Linked DNA regions of Homo sapiens: region 2 is linked to region 1. A link means that fine-mapping ties the variant in region 1 to the expression of a gene that starts in the linked region. Tissue or cell type: stomach. Region 1 holds a variant in brackets; the other region holds the start of a gene. All regions are shown on one strand. Distances are from middle to middle.

Evidence for each region. PIP is the estimated chance that this variant, and not a neighbour inherited with it, causes the effect.
Region 2: it holds the start of LRATD2, and the variant in region 1 is fine-mapped to the expression of LRATD2 in stomach (GTEx, PIP 0.93).

What each region holds. Positions count from the first base shown.
Region 1 is chr8:126,422,150-126,431,468 of GRCh38, forward strand. No RefSeq gene overlaps it. Among named protein-coding and RNA genes, the nearest start is that of LRATD2, 130 kb to the right of the region's middle. The variant A/G (reference allele first, on the strand shown) is at 3,993.
Region 2 is chr8:126,553,637-126,562,955 of GRCh38, forward strand. LRATD2 (LRAT domain containing 2) reads right to left here and starts at 4,842. Exons shown (of 2, transcript NM_174911.5): 1 at 4,398-4,842; 2 at 1-3,849. The coding sequence starts at 3,753. The coding sequence ends at 2,821. LOC105375751 (a long non-coding RNA gene) reads left to right here and starts at 4,240. Exons shown (of 6, transcript NR_188069.1): 1 at 4,240-4,295. RefSeq lists silencers at 2,787-2,906, 4,795-4,974 and enhancers at 3,117-3,266, 4,244-5,080.

The sequences.
Region 1 (9,319 bases):
TCGTTTGATCCTCACAACAGCACTTCAGGTTATTATTGTTATTGTTATATAATAGTCCCTATATTATACATAAGAAAACAGGGTCAGGGAGATAAAGTATTTAATATGGTTTTGCTCTGGGTCCCCACCCAAATCTCATCTTGAATTGTACTCCCATAATTCCCACGGGTTGTGGGAGGTACCTGGTGGGAGATAATTGAATCATGGGGGTGGTTTCTCCCATGTTGTTCTCATGGTAGTGAAAAAGTCTCATGAGATCTGATGGCTTTATAAAGAGAAACCCCTTTTGCCTGGCTCTATTTGCCTGCTGCCAATTGTGTAAGATGTGACTTGCTTCTCCTTGCCTTCTGCCATGATTGTGAGGCTTCCCCAGCCATGTGGAACTGTAAGTCAATTAAACCTCTTTCTTTGGTAAATTGCCCAGTCTTGGGTATGTCTTTATCAGCAGTGTGGAAACAGATGAATAAAGTATTGGTGCGTTTATTGACAAATATATATTATCAACAATGATAATAAGGAAAACAGTAGTTGTAGATTTTGCTGAGTATGTATCACTGTCCCAAACATTTTAAATGTATTTGTGGTTTAATTTCCACATAACTCTGTGAGATTGGTGATAACATTGTCTAGTTTTATTCTGAGACACAGAGAGATTAAGCAACTTTCCTGAGATCACACAGCTAGGAACTGGAGTCAAGATGTGATGCCAGGCAATCTATCCCCAGAGCTCTTGTTTTTACCATAAACTGTAGCAAATGTGGCCTCTTGCTAAACAATAAACTGTTGAAACGAATAAGACATAGGTGTCACGCATGTCCGTGTAAAGAGACCACCAAACAGGCTTTGTGTGAGCAATAAAGCTTTTTAATCACCTGGGTGCAGGCAGGCTGAGTCCGAAAAAGAGAGTCAGCTAAGGGAGATAGGGGTAGGGCTGTTTTATAGCATTTAGGTAGGCAGTGGAAAATTACAGTCAAAGGGAGTTGTTCTCTGGTGGGCAGGGGCAGGGGTCACAAGGTGCTCAGTGGGGGAGCTTCTGAGCCAGGAGAAGGAATTTCACAAGGTAATGTCAGGAACCGGCCATTTTCACTTCTTTTGTGATTCTTCAATTACTTCAGGCCATCTGGATGTATATGTGCAGGCTTGGGCTCAGAGGCCTGACAATAGATATAACCCTTATCCTTAAGGAATTCACAGGCCAGTTTGGGGAACCTGACATATAAATTAGATTATTACAATTCAAGGAGATAAAAAAGATAAGATGCACTATCAGAGCAGTGACAGCGGAGTGACAAAAGTCAATATGTTGGACCTTGGATTGAAACCCAGGCCTCCTGACTGCAGAGTCGATATTTATTTATTCTTTCCTTTATTCGATAAACATTTAGATTGAAAATTATAACTTAAAAAAAAGGCATTCTTCTTCCCCTGAAGAAGCAATCATTACAGCCCAGAGAAAATATTTCTCAAAACACGTTAAGCCCATCACAGCCTTAGTTCCAATATGAACACATCAAGGGTTCATTGATCATAAACTGAAGTGAGGGCTATTCAGTTCTCCACTGCTTTACCCATCCCCCACCCTGACCACTGCCATAAAGGGGCACCAAGAAACATTCCCTTAACCCATTTAGCAGTGGTGCCCTGATTTAATGTAACCTCAAGTTAAATTGTTTTCACTAATGCGAACTTAATGAGGGCCCCTTTAATCCCTTCAGGAATTTTCTTTTTAGAGGTTGGGTCTTGGCTCTACCATGAGAACTGTTCTCTCTGGTGGAGGGTCTCCAGCTTAAGTCTTTTGGGGAATTCCAGGAATGTAGCAATGATCAGCACATTCTTTAGATGTAACTAGGGGTTTTGAACCAATCCCCACAAAAGTATCTTTGAAAGATGTGGCTCAGATTTCCATACCTACTCTTTTTGGGGTCAGAAATATCTCAGAATACACTTTCCCCAATAAAAATATTTTGGGGATAGAGCAGATTAGCTTTTACTTTAAAAAGGCAAAAAATGAAGCTTTACTCCTAAAATAACTCTAAAATTTCAGCTATAAATTTCACTCTCAAGCTCAGAGTATGTGAGGTGAAATTATAAAATATGCCTGCTGCAGTGTGGCTTCCAAATATGGCTATAGCTCTGTCATTTTTTCAAATCATCACAGGAATATCCACCTAGCCTATTAACAGAAAGACACAGACTTGAGACCTTTTCCAGCAATGGCTATATAAGTATATCAGGGGAGTGGGGCTATCCATTTAAGGGGAGTGGGGCCAGGGCTGTTGTTCTGATTCTTTGCAGCAAGAAGAGAAAAAGCTGAGGTTTGATCTGTCAGCTATAATTTCTTCTCACTGCCACACTGTGACACTATGAAACTGATCCTGCCTAACTTGATATTTGATGCACCTCTACTGCTACTGAGATGACCTTGTTGATCTAAGTCATTGATCAGAACACAGAGAATCCTTGTAGTGGATGACAAACTTAGCCACTTGGCTCCAAAGCTTAACCAGTGTTCCTGGGTACAGCTTCAGCCACTACTTTGCCAAAGCCAGCTCTCCTCTTCCCCTTCCACTTAGAGCCTGGGCCACCTACCTAAGCTAGTGTTTGGGGGGGGTCTTTCTGATCTTGTCTGTCACTAGGCTTCAGCTGGATCACCCTTCTCCATCCTGGCCCATCTTCCTAGCTTCTTTTTGTCATTGGGCTTTTAATTCAAACTGTTTTTTTCTTTTCCTCTTCAGAGATCAGCTTTGCAAGCCAGGCATCTCAGTGAATGACACCATGACCAAAGTTCTGCCCTTCTCAATCACCACTTTCCTGATGGATGCCTGTTCATTCTAAATCTATGCTACTGAAGGAGTCGTTCAGTGACTCACCTGAACAAACATCTCTTTCAGGACTTCTCTCCCCACCTCTAGTTCCAGAAGAGGCTGGAATTATTTTTCAGGAGCAGCGATACGATCCTGATAGCAACAATATGTATTCAAAAAGCAACAACTATTGAAGGGTGTGAATGAGATGGGAGCCTTTTCCTTTGAATCATAACACAACATCATGTTTTGTCCTCAGAGTAACTAGAGTGACATGGAATTGACATTGGATGCACTGGTCAGGGCAGAGGGAGAAAGCAGCCGGGGTGGTAGATGGCTTTGTCTATCTTCTTCTCTTTTGGCCTGGAAGCTAAGCAGTTAGGAGCAAGTCTACCTGTCCTTATTAGCTGACCAACTGAGGGTGACCCTGGGGAACAGATGAAGAAGAACAGAAAGAAGATTCCAGGACTGGATTTCTACCCCAGCATAACTCTTGAATGGATTAAGCCAGCACCCCTTGAATGTGAACTCTTGAGACTACGGAGCGACTGTGATTGCTGCAGTGCAGAGTACAAATTCGTTCAAGAAAACTGCCCTGGCCAGGTGTGGTGGCTCAAGCCTGTAATCCCAGCACTTCAGGAGGCTGAGGTGGGTGTATCACCTGAGGTCAGGAGTTCGAGACCAGCCTGCCCAACATGGTGAAACTTCGTCTCTACAAAAAGACAAAAATTACCCAGGCACGATGGTAGGTGCCTGTAATCCCAGCTACTTTGGAGGCTGAGGCGGGAGAGTCGCTTGAACCGGGGAGGCAGAGGTTGCAGTGAGCAGAGATTGCACCACTGCACTCCAGCCTGGGTGACAGAGCCAGGCTCCGTCTCAAAACAAAAACAAAACCAAAAACAAACAAACAAAAAAAAAACTGCCTTGTTTTTCTGAAAGCCTTGGGCCCTCACCTGTGTTTGTTCTGGAGCCCCAGGCAGCTGCCCTTACCTGCTCTCTTTTTCCAGGGACCTCTGGTCAAACAAATCAATTTAAAACATCAAGTGCTGGAGGAACACAAACACAGGCAGCAGGAGAGGCCTCAAGGTGCCAGGCTCTGCTTTCAGCGGCTCTGGGTTTCCAAGCACGTTCCAAAAATATAACCCCCACTGCCATGGCAAACCTGCCTTTGATAAAACACAATGTACA[A/G]TCTCTAATGTTGACACAGAACAGATGGGACTTTGATTTTTTAAAAATCTGTTCTTGATAGAAGTGAAATAGGCATAATGGATTTTTCCCTTTTTTTTTTGGATTTGGACTTCTATTTTTTTCTTATCACATGCATACCGAACACAGAATCTTTCCATTCTCTCTCTTTGTTTCTGTCATAGGTTATTTCTGTAAGTAAGAGTCTCTGGTTGACCAAGTCTTGCTTTTCTCATTAACCAAACAGGATGCAGATTACTAGCCCCATGTCCCTTTTATCTGGGGAAAAAAAAAAATCAGTCATGGGAGCCACACACCAAGGGTGTCCTCAGACTTAGAGGCAACAAGACAATGGCTTATCAACAACGATGTACTGAGTGACTGCTGAGCAGGGGGTACAGTAAGGGGAGGGGGAAGTTATCCCTCACCTACCCCACATGCAATCGTAATCTAAATGCAGAATGGACCTGCCATGCCAACTCAGCCTGAATACAAGCCCCAACAGATTGCAGCCCGTAAACCCCTCCTAAACACGCCTTTAGAGCTGCCCCCGGTCACAAAACAAGCCCTTTCCAAGCCCTCCATAACTCCTCAGAGCATCGTCTGTGCACAGGGTGTTCTTGCAGGGAGGGAGTCACCCCTCACATGATTCCATTCCCATAACAACAGTTGTTACAGGGGCAGAATGCAACAGACACTGACAGACGGATTTAGGCCCTCTACGTTAACCCTAAATTGTCTGACTAGATGATGATAGGCGTGCCTGACAGTCAGTGGCTCAAGCCACATTACACCTTACTCTTATACTTTATTTCCTTCTATCCTACAAGACTCCTGGGCAGGAGGTGAAATTTAAAGAGAGGGAAAGAGAAACGCAGCAAAGAATCATGGCTCAGGGTAGTGGGATGTTCTGCTCTATGTCGAGAGTGGCTTAGCTTTTGTTTTCAATCCGGCAGGCTTCTTCTAGGGCAGTTGGATTGATTCAAAGGGATGAAAGGCAGAGTTGTGTGGAAGAGGGAGCACAAGTTTCAATGGCCCTCCCAAGTCCGGTTCACAGTCCCACCACTCTATAGGGATTGGTGTGGTGGGAAGAGGGCTGAGGGAGATTTACTAGGTTATGAGACTGGTAAAGAATACACACTGGGAATCTTACCTCATATTCTCCTAGATTCCAATCTCTCCAACACAAATTAAATTGCCCTAACCATTTTTCTAGAATGATCTGGAAATATGAACTATTCATATTTCTTTCCCAACTATTTCACAGAAAAAATGTTTATACAGAATTTTTAAAAAAGTTACAGAGACAAAAAAGATTGATGCATTATTTCATTTTGTGAGCTAGCTACAAAAAAGAAGTCTATTTATATTTTTTATCTATTCCACATGCATTAGCAGAGCATCCTCTTGGTGGATTTCCAAAACCCGATGTTGTGGCATGCAACAAAGAGGACACTTGTCATTCTATTTGCCCTGTTAATGGTAAGTTTCATGGTACATCATAGGTGTTCAATACATGTTTTGACTTTTTAAAAAGTTTGCTTTCACTGTCATGATTTAGTTCATGAGCATTTAGTAAACAAGCAGGAGGAGAAGGATCCCCTCAACACTGATGACAACGATGATGATGATGTTAGTAATGAAGAGGAAACAAGATAGAAAAAGAACCTGTATGTAGGGTAACCTGTCAATTTTCTAATGAGCATGCCTAGGTCAAATGAGAGTGCCGGGGTCTTAATTCAAATCCCTCTTCTACCACTTAGCAGGAAGCATCAACAAGGCACAGTATGACCCATTCTCACTTTCTTTGTCTTTAACTAGAAATAAAGATTCCTCACAAGCTGTGAAAATCAAATAAGAAAATTGTATGCAAAAGTACTTTGTAAATGGGGTCATACAAATATAAGAAGGTAATTTCATTATCAATTGCTAAGAACCACATAGGCCTCTCAGGATCCATTTAAGTTTTAAGATATCTTAACTACAAACTATCTATAAAAATGCAGAATAACCAAGGATAAGCTATTCATTTTTTCATTGCTGCATAACACATGACCAAAAAATTTAGCAGCTTAAAACAACTCCCATTTATAATCTCACAGTCTGAAGGCTGGAAATCCAGGCAGACTCAACTGGGTTCTTTACTTAGGGATTCATAAGGCTGACATCAAAGTGTCATTGGTGCTGGGTTCTTCTCTAGTGACTCTGGGGAAGAATTTGCTTCAAAGCTCCTTTGACCAGAATTTACTGGCAGAATTTAACTCCTTGGACTGTAGGCCTGAGGTCCTTGTCTTCTCCCTGGCTGACAGCTGTATACCACTCTCAGCACACAGGGGCTGCCCTGTGGTGCTTGTCCCATGATCCTCCCCATCTCAGCAATGAAAAACCCCACTTACATCAAAGCCTCCCCCTCTGACTTCTTCTTCTGCTCCCATATGGAGAAACTCTCAGCTTTGTCTTTTTTTTTTAATCATTATTTTTTATTATTTTTCTCACTGCCTCTTTAGTCACTGATCTCTACTTTGAAAGTGATTAGACTTAGGTCCACCAGAATAATTGCTCTTTTAACTCAAAGACCACTGATTGATAACCTTTACTACAGCTGCAAAATCCCTTTTGCCATGAAATGCAACATAATTTTGAGTGTGATATCACATCTCATTCACAGGCCTGAGGGTTAAGGCTGGATATCTTAGGGAGGGGGAAATAGGTGACCTCATAAGAAGATGGCCCTAAATATGTACACTGTGTCTATTTTATGATAAATCTCCCCCCTCATTAAGAGTTGGGGATAGAAAGGAGGGAGGAGAAAAATATATTTAAAAAAAGATTTGGGGATAACCTCCATATACTCCCCATGTCTAACACAACTTCTAGCAAAATGTGGGTTCACACTGAATAGGGATACAAGGCTTCCTTTGGGACATCTGCTTTTCAATCTCAGGTTCCATAAAGAAAATAATATTGAAAGTATCTTTGTCTTAGTTAATTGTATACTTTCCCTGCACCCCGCTGTCTAGCAAGATACCTAGCACATAGAGGGGCAAAATAAATAAGGTTGAGTGAATACGTTAATGAATGAATGAATGAATGAATGGAGGAATTTTTCACTTAGGCTTAACTAAGGGTCTCCGCTGATATCTGCATACCTAGCTTAGTTGTTGTTGGGTTTGTTTGTTTGTTTGTTTTGAAAAAAAAATGTTGAAGAAAGCTCAGTGTTAAGATTTTGGTTTTGGTTTTGCCTTTTAGGCACTTGTTTTTTTTCTTTTTTTAAGCTTTCCTTCAGGGATTTGTTCCATATGATCAACTCACACGGATTAATGCTATTCTCACCCATCATAGCGGGGCCAGGCCCTCCCAGTCTAGAGGGAGATTTGCGTAGATAGAAGGGGAGTTCTGCCCGAGGCAACAGTGGGCACCTGAGGGAGGGCCAATTTCAAGAGCCTTCTTTTTGAAAGAATTTAAGAGCCTCATCAGTCTGCCAAGGAATTTGAGTGCACAGTGCATAACAGGCTAGATTCTAGCTCAGCAAAAAGTAAAAGACTCCTACCAAATAAAGCACAGAAAAATCTTCCAGCAACCATCCACAAAAATGACAAAGCCTTTTCACTGTTTCTTGTTTGTTTATTTTTATTTATTTATTTATTTGAGACGGGGTTTCACTCTCGTTGCTCAGGCTGGAGGGCAATAGCGTGATCTCAGCTCACCTCCACCTCCCGGGTTCAAATGATTCTCCTGCCTCAGCCTCCCGAGTAGCCAGGATTACAGACGCCTGCCACCATGCCCAGCAAATTTTTGTAGTTTTAGTAGAGATGGGGTTTCACCATGTTGGCCAGGCTGGATTTAAACTCCTGACCTCAAGTGATCCACCTGCCTTGGACTCCCAAAGTGCTGGGATTACAGACTCAGCCACCGTGTCTGGCCTATTTTTATTTTTATTTTTGAGATGGAGTCTCATTCTGTCGCCCAGGCTGGAGTGCAGTGGTGCAATCTTGGCTCACTGCAACCTCCACCTCCCGCATTCAAGCGATTCTCCTGCCTTAGCCTCCAGAATAGCCGGGATTACAGGCGCCCACTACCACACCCTGCTAATTTTTTGTATGTTTAGTAGAGATGGGATTTCACCACGTCGGCCAGGCTGGTCTTGAAATCCTGACTTCGAGTGATCCTCCCAACCTCGGCTTCCCAAAGTGCCGGAATTACAGGTGTAAGCCACTGCGCCCAGCCCTCCTCACTGTTTGAAAGCTTCCTCCTTGAAAACTGGATTGACAGATACTGGATTGAAGTGAGGCAGCTTAATGCTGAAGAGGACAGCTGGCAATGTAGCAGGGAAACAGAGCCTACCTTGCTGCAGATAAATCAATATTCTGCTCCAGGCCATTAGTGGCTGGTTATTATTTAAAAACAAAAACCTGCAAATGTATTGGTTATCCCTTGATCAGACTGTGTCTCCAAAGGATTCTTTTATGATTCTTCCATTTTCCAAGTTGCACAAAACAATTTCCCATTAACCATATCCTCGCATATTCTGCTTACTAAACCAAAGCCATTTACATAATGGGTAATTTCACACACACATTAGCTAAATATAGGTGTAAACAAATACGTTGCTAAAGTTTGGACACATTTGGAGAATGCAAAACATCTAGACTATGGGAGAGGTGGAGGATTGGAGCCAGGTACATACACGTTCCAAATTAAGGAAAACCAAAAATATATATACATATATATATTATAAATATTAGATACATATTACAAATATTACATATATGTAATACATATGTAATATACATATATATAATATTTGTAATAGCACTTGCTACACTCTTCTAAGCACTGCTCTTGTATTAATTCATTTAATCCTCCCAGATACTGTATGGTGTAATTGTACTGTTATTTTCATCTCCCACTGACAGATGGGGAATGATGATATAGAGAGGGTCAGTACTTTGCCCAAAAGCAGAACTGGGCACTGAAGCCAGGAAGACTGGCTCCAGAGTCCATGTGCATAACTATTAGACTACTGAAGTCATCCTCAGAGGACTGACAAGAATTCTCGACAGAAATATAGTTATAATTAAGCATTTATCAGGCTGTGCTTGGACCCATTTTCTGGTAACCAAAAGTCATGTAGCACTGGATACTGACCATTTGCATTCCCATTGTTCCTATAGACAAGATTTCTAATGTGAGAATTGTAAGACTTTCACTTAAGAATTGCCTAAGATGTTTTTCAGATCCTGAATTCCAGAAAAACAGCTGATGTCAACTAATGTGAAGACCCGCACAGAGGCACGGCATCGACCTGAGAGTACAGTTTCTTCATCTCC
Region 2 (9,319 bases), 130 kb after region 1:
CCCTTTCCTGGAGCTGTTACTAGTTGGTTGTTGCTTTAAGTGTAATAACCCTAAGAAAATTCCCAATAAAAATCACTGTTCTTAAGTGTCACATATTTCACACCTCTGGTACCCTGTAGAAACGCTTGTATTACATGGGAAAGCAGCATCTGAAAAGATCTATTTCCTATTCTAGTTCATTTCCAAGCCCTGTTATTGAAAACCTCTTCTCTAGAAGAGAGAGTCACTGCTCTCTCTTAACACAGTCGCTGCTATACTTCAGCGTGACTGACCATACATCATTTTCCATTCTGGGACAGAGGAAGAAGACGGGTGGGGGAGTTGATCTGGCTAGCCCAGAGCTGGACAGTGCCATTCTATTCTTCCCTCCCACTTGTCTACACGGTGGTTATTACTACTTGCTCTGCTGCCCAGGCTGGAGTGCAGTGGTGCGATCTCGGCTCACTGCAACCTCTGCTTCCCAGCTTCAAGCAATTCTTCTGCCTCAGGCTCCCAAGTAGCAGGCATTACAGGCGCCTGCCACCACGCCCAGCTAATTTTCTGTATTTGTGGTAGAGACAGGGTTTCGCCATGTTGGCCAGGCTGGTCTCGAACTCCTAACTTCAGGTGATCTACCTGCCTCAGCCTCCCAAAGTGCTGGGATTACAGGCATGAGCCACTGTGCCCGGCCTACCTTCTATTTTCACTACTGTGTTAAGCATGAAAGAAAATCCAACTGGGTTAGATACAGCAGGTTCTCCTAAATGTCTTAACCCATGTTTATCTTGTTCTGCTATTCCATGAGCAAAGAGAATAAACACAAAGCTGTGAGAGTATTAAATATGGACACTAGATTTACATTTCCAACAAGAAATTCATCTCCCTCCAAAGTCCCAGACCAGGGCTAGAATGTGGTTCATTTTTAACAATCAAAGTGGCAAGATCTGTTTGGTGATCACTGTAAAAACAGGAAACATAGCTAATGCCCTTTCATGTTGAGGTGCTACAAAGGTCCAAGCTTTTAAAGACTATGGCCTCAACGTCCATGTGTGAAACAAGTGTATTAGAAAATTCTTTAAGTCTTGTTGCCTTAACTTAGAGATCTCCAGGCAACAGGCCTGACGATAGCCATGGCTGTACCACTTAACTATGATTCTATTCCAACTGTTCAGAATCATATCACAAAATGACTTGTACACAGTAGTTTACAACGACTCCCAAGAGAGGAAAAAAAAAAAAAGACGCCTCAAAATTCACTCAACTTTTGAGACAGCAATGGCAATAGGCAGCAGAGAAGCTATGCTGCAACTGAGGGCACATATCATTGAAGATGTCACAGGAGTTTAAGAGACAGGCTGGAAAAAATCTCATACTAAGCAAACAGTAGTATCTCATACCAAGCAAAACCAAGTAGTATCTGCTCAGCCTGCCGCTAACAGATCTCACAATCACCAACTGTGCTTTAGGACTGTCACCAAAGTCAGATTCGGTGCTAACCAGGTGGCATCTATGATCAACGTCGCCCCTCTTATTTAACAAAGGGCTCTGAAGGAGGTGTTCTCCAAGCAACAAGGAGACTGCTTCAGTACAAGACTTTGCACCTTGAATTCAATTGCATCAAGTGTGGATAGCAAAATAAGTATCTTACCATTGAAATATGTGTTCAGCCTAAGATTTTACCCACCAGCAGAACAAAAGTGAGGGTGAGAGGGATGGGCCAGTGAGGGGATGGGGGAGAAAAAAAAATCACAGGATTACCACCAAAGCCTTGTTTTAAAAGGGCTCCCTTCACTATTCAGGAAGGGAAGTGGAAGGAGAAATTAACCAATTCCTGCCACAGCAGCCCTTTTTGGCTGCTTCCACAATAGATACTTTATGGAGTGGCACAGCCAACCCTATCTGTGACCTGCCCTGCGGATAAACACAGCCAAGCAGGTTTAATTAGATCAAAGACACAAAGGGCTATTCCCTCCTTTCATAACAACGCAGCTGTAAGTGCCTACAACAGCAGGGGAGAAACAAAGGCAGCAGAACAGAACCTTAATTGAAACCTTCCCCTGGCTGGCCCTTGACAATGATTTACTTGTAACCTAGGAAGGGGCGGGTGGAGCAGGAGGTAGCAGGAGCCTCAGCTAAGAGCCAGCTCCAGAAGGCTAATTACTTGGGGGTTGTGGAGGAGGGAGGTAGCAAAGTCTTTGTTTGTAGCCCGAGTTTGCTTAACTATTTGTTACACTTAATAGGAGGCTGCTGTGGTTTTGGTCTGCTGCTCCCGGACCTTGTCATGGATTCACCAGCCCTGCGCTCCAGGAATCCCATAAAATAAATCACCCCAGCCTCCTGGATCCCATACACAGCTCAGCTCCGCCAAAGCAGACAAGCAGCTTTCGTGCTGGTCCCGCAGTGGCGACTCCACAAACCCACTCTGGCCTTTCTACCAGGATTCTTCCAAGCCCAGGATAGGAAGCAACGGCAGGAATGGGTACTCCGAACTTTCCCCCAACCCCACGTGCTTAAGAATGGCCGATTATAAACCCAGATCTACCAAGGTTTAAGTGCCAGGCAAGTCCACAGTTTGCTCCACCGCGGAGAGGAAGACAGACAGGGGGCCAGAGGGAGACGCCCCCCACCCCCAACTAAAGTGTTTCCTACCTGCTCCCTCTGTCCCCTTCCTCCTCCCCCGTCCACAGCCGGCTGCGCATTTCACCAACTCTTTTCCAAAGGGCCCAGGAATCCCAGATGGGGCCCAGACAGTGGCAAAAGAGGGAGGAAGAGAGGGAGAAAGGGAGCAGCGGCTGCTACTGCAAACAGTTCCCCTTCGCAGCTCTGCGCTCAGCTCGCCCATCAGTGTGCCACTGCCTCTCCGTCCTCCTCCTCGGAGCTGGGCGCAGGGGGGCGCCCGGGAGGCGGCGTAGTCCGCGCCACGTTGCTGTCGCCCTCCTCCGGCTCCGCCGGGTGCAGGTGCGTGGCGAGCTCCTGCAGCACGGCCGCGCGCCCGATCTGGTCGTTGCGTCGCTTCTCCATGATCAGGTCCTCTAGACTCTGGAACTCGAGCGTGTGGCTGCGCTGCGCCGACAGCTGAATCTGCAGCCGGTAGGGCTGCTTGCCGATGCGCAGCTCGCCGCCGATCTTGAACTCGCGCTTGCCGTAGCGGCACCAGGCGGCGAAACTCTCCGAGTTGCGCCAGCTCAGCTCGCGCTCCTTGGCACCCACGTGCGCCAGCGCGTTGCGCACCACGGCGCTGGAGCTTAGCGGCTTGTAGCGGTACAGATCGTTGACCACGCGGCCGCGACGGCCCTGGCTGGCGTCAGTCAGGAAGCTGTTAATCACCTCCAGCCGGTGCAGGTGCACCACCTGGAAGTTACCCACATATACGGCCCAGTGCGGGTACTGAGCCTGCGACACGAACTCCACCAGATCGCCCGGCTTGCACTTGTTGAGCAGGTTCTCGGGCGTGTAGGTACTCAGCGCCGCCGAGCCCGGCGCGAAGCTCTTCTGGTAGATGCATTCGTCCCGGTAGAACACGGAGCATTCCACCTCGTGCAGCCGCGGATCGTAGGGCTGCGGCTGGGGCGGCGGCGGCCCGTCCCCACCGTCGGGCAAGCCGCCGCCATCTGGCCCCTGAGGCGGCGGCTGCGGCTCCACGTCCTCATCGTCATTGGAGAAAATGTAGGAGACCCCAATGCGGGGCCCGTCGTCCCGGTCCACGCCAGTCGGGTCGGCCGTGGGAACTTCCTTGTAACTTAGGTGGGTCAATTTCTCCACCTGGTTGCCCATCACGCTGCGGACACACGTTCACACCGCCGCAAGGGGAGAAAGCGAAACCAACTCCAGGGTCATTTGCACAGGTCCCCGGACAGGGGCTGAGGCTACCTGTTGGGAGAGGAAGGCAAGAAAGCCATGCAGGAGCCCCTCCGTGAAAAGGGCGTTTTGTTCCGAAAAAGAATCGGTGGGGGCTCAGCACCTGGAGCCATTTTAGGGGGAAGTCTCGGGTGTAGCGAGCTTTCCCTCGTTTCTCCACCTGTAAGGTCACGGTCACAGGAGACTGGGCAACTCCTGTTCTCCCTGTCCCCAGCCCTTCGCCTGGCCCTGGCAAAAGCCCATTGCATCAGCAGCTTCTACTGCTTCCGCCTGCGCCCTACCTGCCAAGCTTGGGCAGGAAGAGGGAAGGAAAGAGAAACTTTACGCCAATCCCCCCCCTCCTCTGCTAACTTCCCCTCCCACCCTCGGGCCCTAACTAGCCCCGGGGACGCCTCCTCCCCACCAACGCATCCATCCCCAGAGGAACAAGCGAGGATCTCAGAGCGCGACCTGGACAGGTGAGTCACCCTACCTGGCTCACCTGCAGCGCTACCTCCTCCCGGCTCGCCCGCCCTTCCCCCGCGCCCGCCCTCAGGCTCGGGTTACCTGCACAAACTCACCCGCGGAGAGGTGAAGGCCGTGGGGCCTGGGGAAGGGCTCCCTGCCGCGCCCCGAGACTTCTAGGGCGAGTTTGAAGGTGTAGGCTCGGCAGTCCCTCCTCTCCCGGCGCGGGCGGCAGCGAGGCTGGGCAGAGGGCAGCGCAGCGGGCAGACTAGGGGCATGTCTTTCCCCCGCGGCTGCGTAGCGCCCCGATACTTGAAGGCGGGGGGCAATCCCTGTTCACACCGCGCTTCCTCCCGCCAGCTGGGGCTGCTGCCCCTCCTCAGCCAGCTCTCGGGGGAGGTGGGGCGCGAGGAGGAGAGGACGGCAGCCTCGCAGCCTGGCGGCAACAGCTCCCGCTTGGGCCGGGCGAGCAACAAGCACCGGAGCTGGAGGGACGGGATTGTAGATCCGGCTCCGGGCTCCCGGGCGGGAGCGCAGCCCGTGGCATTTAAAGAGACAGGCGCTCACTCCCCGAGCTCGGGTCTTTTTCACATTGCGCCGAGCGGCCGGGAGCCCCGCCCCCGCCCCGCCCACTCGGGCCTCGGGACTCCGCCCGGCCACGCCCCCGCGCCGGAGCGGGTTTAAATCCCCCTGTAAATAATCCACCCGCCGCCTGGGGCTGGTGCTGTGAGCTCTGCTTGCCTTCCGAGACAAGTTAGAAGGCAAACACAACTTGCCAGTGTGGAAATGAGAAAGGGAAGGAGAGTTTGGTGTTTGCGCCTTTTCCCTTTGACCTGTTTTTTCCCAGAGTACCTGGAGAAGGAGGAACAGTCGTTTCTTTTCTTTCCTGGAACATATTTCTTGCCCTAAAGGTCACAAGAAAGGATTCTTCACCAGGACAGCTCGAAGAGTGCGTCATCCTAGAGGTGTTTTCAGAGTTAGTAGTGGGAAACTTTGGGGTAGAAAAGAAAATCGCAGAAAAGAAACAGTATAAAACAGAACGAAGACTTATTCACTGACTGGGTCCCAAGACCACCGCTCTGTTTATTAGATACCCCTGGAAGTTAGTACAAAGTTCATAACCTCCGTTATTTCCAGAGAGGTACCAGTTCGTTGGATAGTGAGAGAAGCGTGCAGCTCTGACTGCTTTTTTTTGGGGGGGTGGGGGGTTAGGGGATGTAGGAATTGCCTAATTCCTACATCCTAATTCTAATTGTCCTTAAATTAGAAACAAATTAGCAGAGGCCCTAGTGGATATATTTCCTTCCTGTTGACTTAGGGAAGTGACAGGAGACCAGTAATGCCTACTAACCTCCACCACAAAAGGACACTTCCACCTCTCCACTGGTTTCGTTTCTTTTACCTAAATGTAGGCTACCAAAGTGTTTTTTTTGTTGTTGTTGTTGTTTATTTTTTTAAAATAATGGGTCCGGTGAGGGTGGAGGATTAACAGCTCTGTTTACAATAAACAAGTTTAGGCACTACTGCAAGCACCCAGACTTATTCGTAGGGGACTTAAGAATGCGATTCAAGACCTATATTCTGTCTTCAGTTGCTTTCTTTTGACTAATTTTTTCCAGCATGTATAACCAGCCAGTGGAAACAGGAATATACTAGCACTACTGTGATCCTTTCTAGTTTAGGAGAAAAAAATAAAAATCATTCTACTTATGTAATTTTGAGTCCAAACAATCAATATTGGCAGGGCTGTGATAGAAATTAGTCCTTCAGCAAGTCTGAAGTATAAGTTAGATCAACATGAGACTACTGTGTGCTGTGCGATTCTGTTTCAATAATTTCAGACTGGCTGGCCTCAGGCGCATGTGACTGAATGAATCCAACACACCCCAGTCCTTTTGATAGCAAATGGTGTGGGGGGCTGCTGTTACCTGAGTGATATTTGTTGCCATCATATGATCACCATATTATAGACAAGAGTTAGGCTTATAGAGATTATGGCTGGTCATCCTATGTTCATCAGATTGGGAGACCTCTGCTACTGCCTGATTTGGGAGGCCACTTTGCTCCTAGGTGCTACTGGGATGGCTGGGAATGGGAGAATTGAACTGAGAGGACACAGTTGTAGGACAATTTGCTACCAGCACTCTAGGTCAGAGATCTGGTGGGTGAGGAAGCAATGCCTAGCTGACTAGGTGTGTCTCCTTTTGTCTTGATGAGCTGTTCTCAGGTGCACAATAGTGGCTCAACAACATATCTTGAACTGACCAACTATAAAGCCTCAGAGGGAACAAGCCCTGATCCATTTTATATCTGAATGCCTGGCACTGAGTGGGTACTCAATAAATGCTTGATGGATGCCTTAGGGGAAAATTTGGCCACAGGTCAAGAATTGCTTCCTGGTTTTATGGGGCTGTGAGTGAGTGAGTGAAGAAATGTTGCCTTTTGATAGCTGGCGTCTAGTGTAGATTCTTCCATGAATGCCTGTTGAGGGTTCAACATCCGTCTTGTCACCTGGAACATTTGGTCAGAGATTACAACATGGCTCTCAGACATGCTTTGCTCATTTCAAATAGTTGTTTAATAAATTTAAGCTTGTTGTCAACAATTTGAAAACTTGGGAGATATTAAAAAATTCATATTCCCAGTTTCATTTGAAAAATCTAAAGATATGAGACTTGGCTGGGCGTGGTGGCTCATGCCTGTAATTTCAGCACTTTGGGAGGCCAAGGCAGGATCACTTGAGATCAGGAGTTCGAGACCAGCCTGGCCAACATGGTGAAACCCCATCTCTATTAAAAATACAAAATTAGTAGCCGGGAGTGGTGGGGTGCGCCTATAATTCCAGCTATTCAGGAGGCTGAAGCAGGAGAATTGCTTGAACCCGGGAGGCAGAGGTTGCAGTGAGCCGAGATCACGCCATTGCACTCCAGTCTGGGTGACAGAGTGAGACTCTGTCTGTAAATAAAATAAAGATATGAGACAATCAGACCCATATTCCAGGATGGCAACAAATTGCTGGAGAGAAGTGGTAGTTGCCTTGCGGGTGAACTATATTCTCCAGTTGGATCCAGTCCCTGTCCCCCACACCTCACGTACCTAGGTCCCTTGCCTGGTCCAGGAAGCTCTCTGTTGGCCACCTTTGCCATCCAATACCTGTACTACACATTTTATTACCTGAATATGTGTAACTCAGCACTTGATCATATACTATCTGGTATTATTCTCTAATTCATGTATTAAAGTTCATATTCTAATTAATATATTTATTCATGTCTTTTCTAAAGAGGACTTGGTTCAAAATACATTTCATGAAGACATACTGGGTGCCTGCTAGTCTTAATCACTGTGCATCCAATTCTACAATGGGCACTGTGCTAGGTTTCTTAGATGTTCGTGTCCCCAGGTAGTCACCATATTGGAGGAGACAGAGAAATAAATAGACTCTTTGGGACACTGTGACATGTCCTGTAATAAGACATAGAGGATGCTGGGGCGGTAAGGTGATGTTTCAAGGCATGGTGGATACAGAGATTAATGACCAAGTGCCTGCCAACAGGGTCTTGGGCTCATCGGGGAAACACAACTCTAAAATTAATAACTCCCATGGAGTGAGCTCTTGATTCTTTTATAAAGGAGAAGAAAGGTTAGAGAGGCCATGGCTTCTCCCAGCTGGTAGGTGGAAAGATCACACAAGCCCACTTTACTTCCAGGCCCATGCTTTTTGTTTTGTTTGTTTGTGTGTTTGTTTGAGATGGAGTCTCACTCTGTCACCCAGGCTGGAGTGCAACGGCGTGATCTTGGCTCACTGCGACCTCCACCTCCCGAGTTCAAGCGATTCTCGTGCCTCAGCCTCCCGAGTAGCTGGGACTACAGGTGCCTGCCACCACACTGGGCTAATTTTTTTATAAGTTTAGTAGAGATGGGGTTTTGCCATGTTGGCCAGGATGGTTTTGAACTCCTGACTTCAGGTGATCTGCCCACTTCAGCTTCCCAAAGTGCTGGGATTAGAGGCATGAGCCACTGTGCCCGGCCAGGCCCATGCTTTTAACTTCTTTGTTTTAAATAGAATCCAACAGATTCTACAATATTTAACAAATATTTGGGTGTCTGGGTTTACCAGACTCCAAGGATACAGTTGTGGATGTAGCAAGCAACGTCCCCGCTCTTATGGCTTTTACATGTTGATGAGAGGAGGCAAATAATAAATAAGTAAATGAATCAATGGAAATATCTGAGAGAGAGAGAGCAGGGCTATGAAGAAGGTAAAATAGGGAAATGGGATTGAATAGCTGTCAGTAAGGAGAGGGTAATGGGGGTGGCCTACTTGGGTTAAGATGGTCAGGGAAGGGCTCCTGAGGAAATAGAAATGAGCAGAGACTTGAAGGATGAGGAGCCAGCCTTGATATTACCTCCAGAGGGAAGACCAAGAGCAAAGGTTAGAGGGGGAAAAGACTGGAAGTGATTAGGAAAAAGGAAAGACTACAGTTGTGACCAGAGTACAGTGAGTGAATGTAGCTATGACAGGAGGTGCAGGTAGAGAGGTGGGCGAGCCTTTGAGTTTAAGGGCATCCAGGCAGCTGCCCTACAGGAAATGGACTGCAGGAGCAAGAAAGGAAGCAGGTCCCACAGAGGCCTGGGCTGTGGGAGGAAAGGCATCCCAGGCAGATGGAGGCTGGAGGAAAGCAAAGAGCAGGCTGGGAAAATGCCTTCCCCAAGAGCAGCAGTTCGATAAAGAAATATTAGTTGGGTTTGAATTCTCAGCCATACGGCAGCTTCATCCCCCCAACAGTGACCCGAGTGTCACATCCCACACACCTCTTCGGAGGAGGCACTCAATAAAAACAAGTTGTGTTGAATGCCAGTTAGTCACTCTCACAGTACTCCTGTCTAGACCAGTGGGGAATAATTGAGAACTGACATTTCTGCCTGACAAGGCGTCGGCCCTGACTCTGCAGGTGTGGTAGAGATCTCAGTTTAAATGGCTTGCTCCAAGAAATACAAAACAGGAGCACAAGGGCAGAATTATCTTGATTAGGCA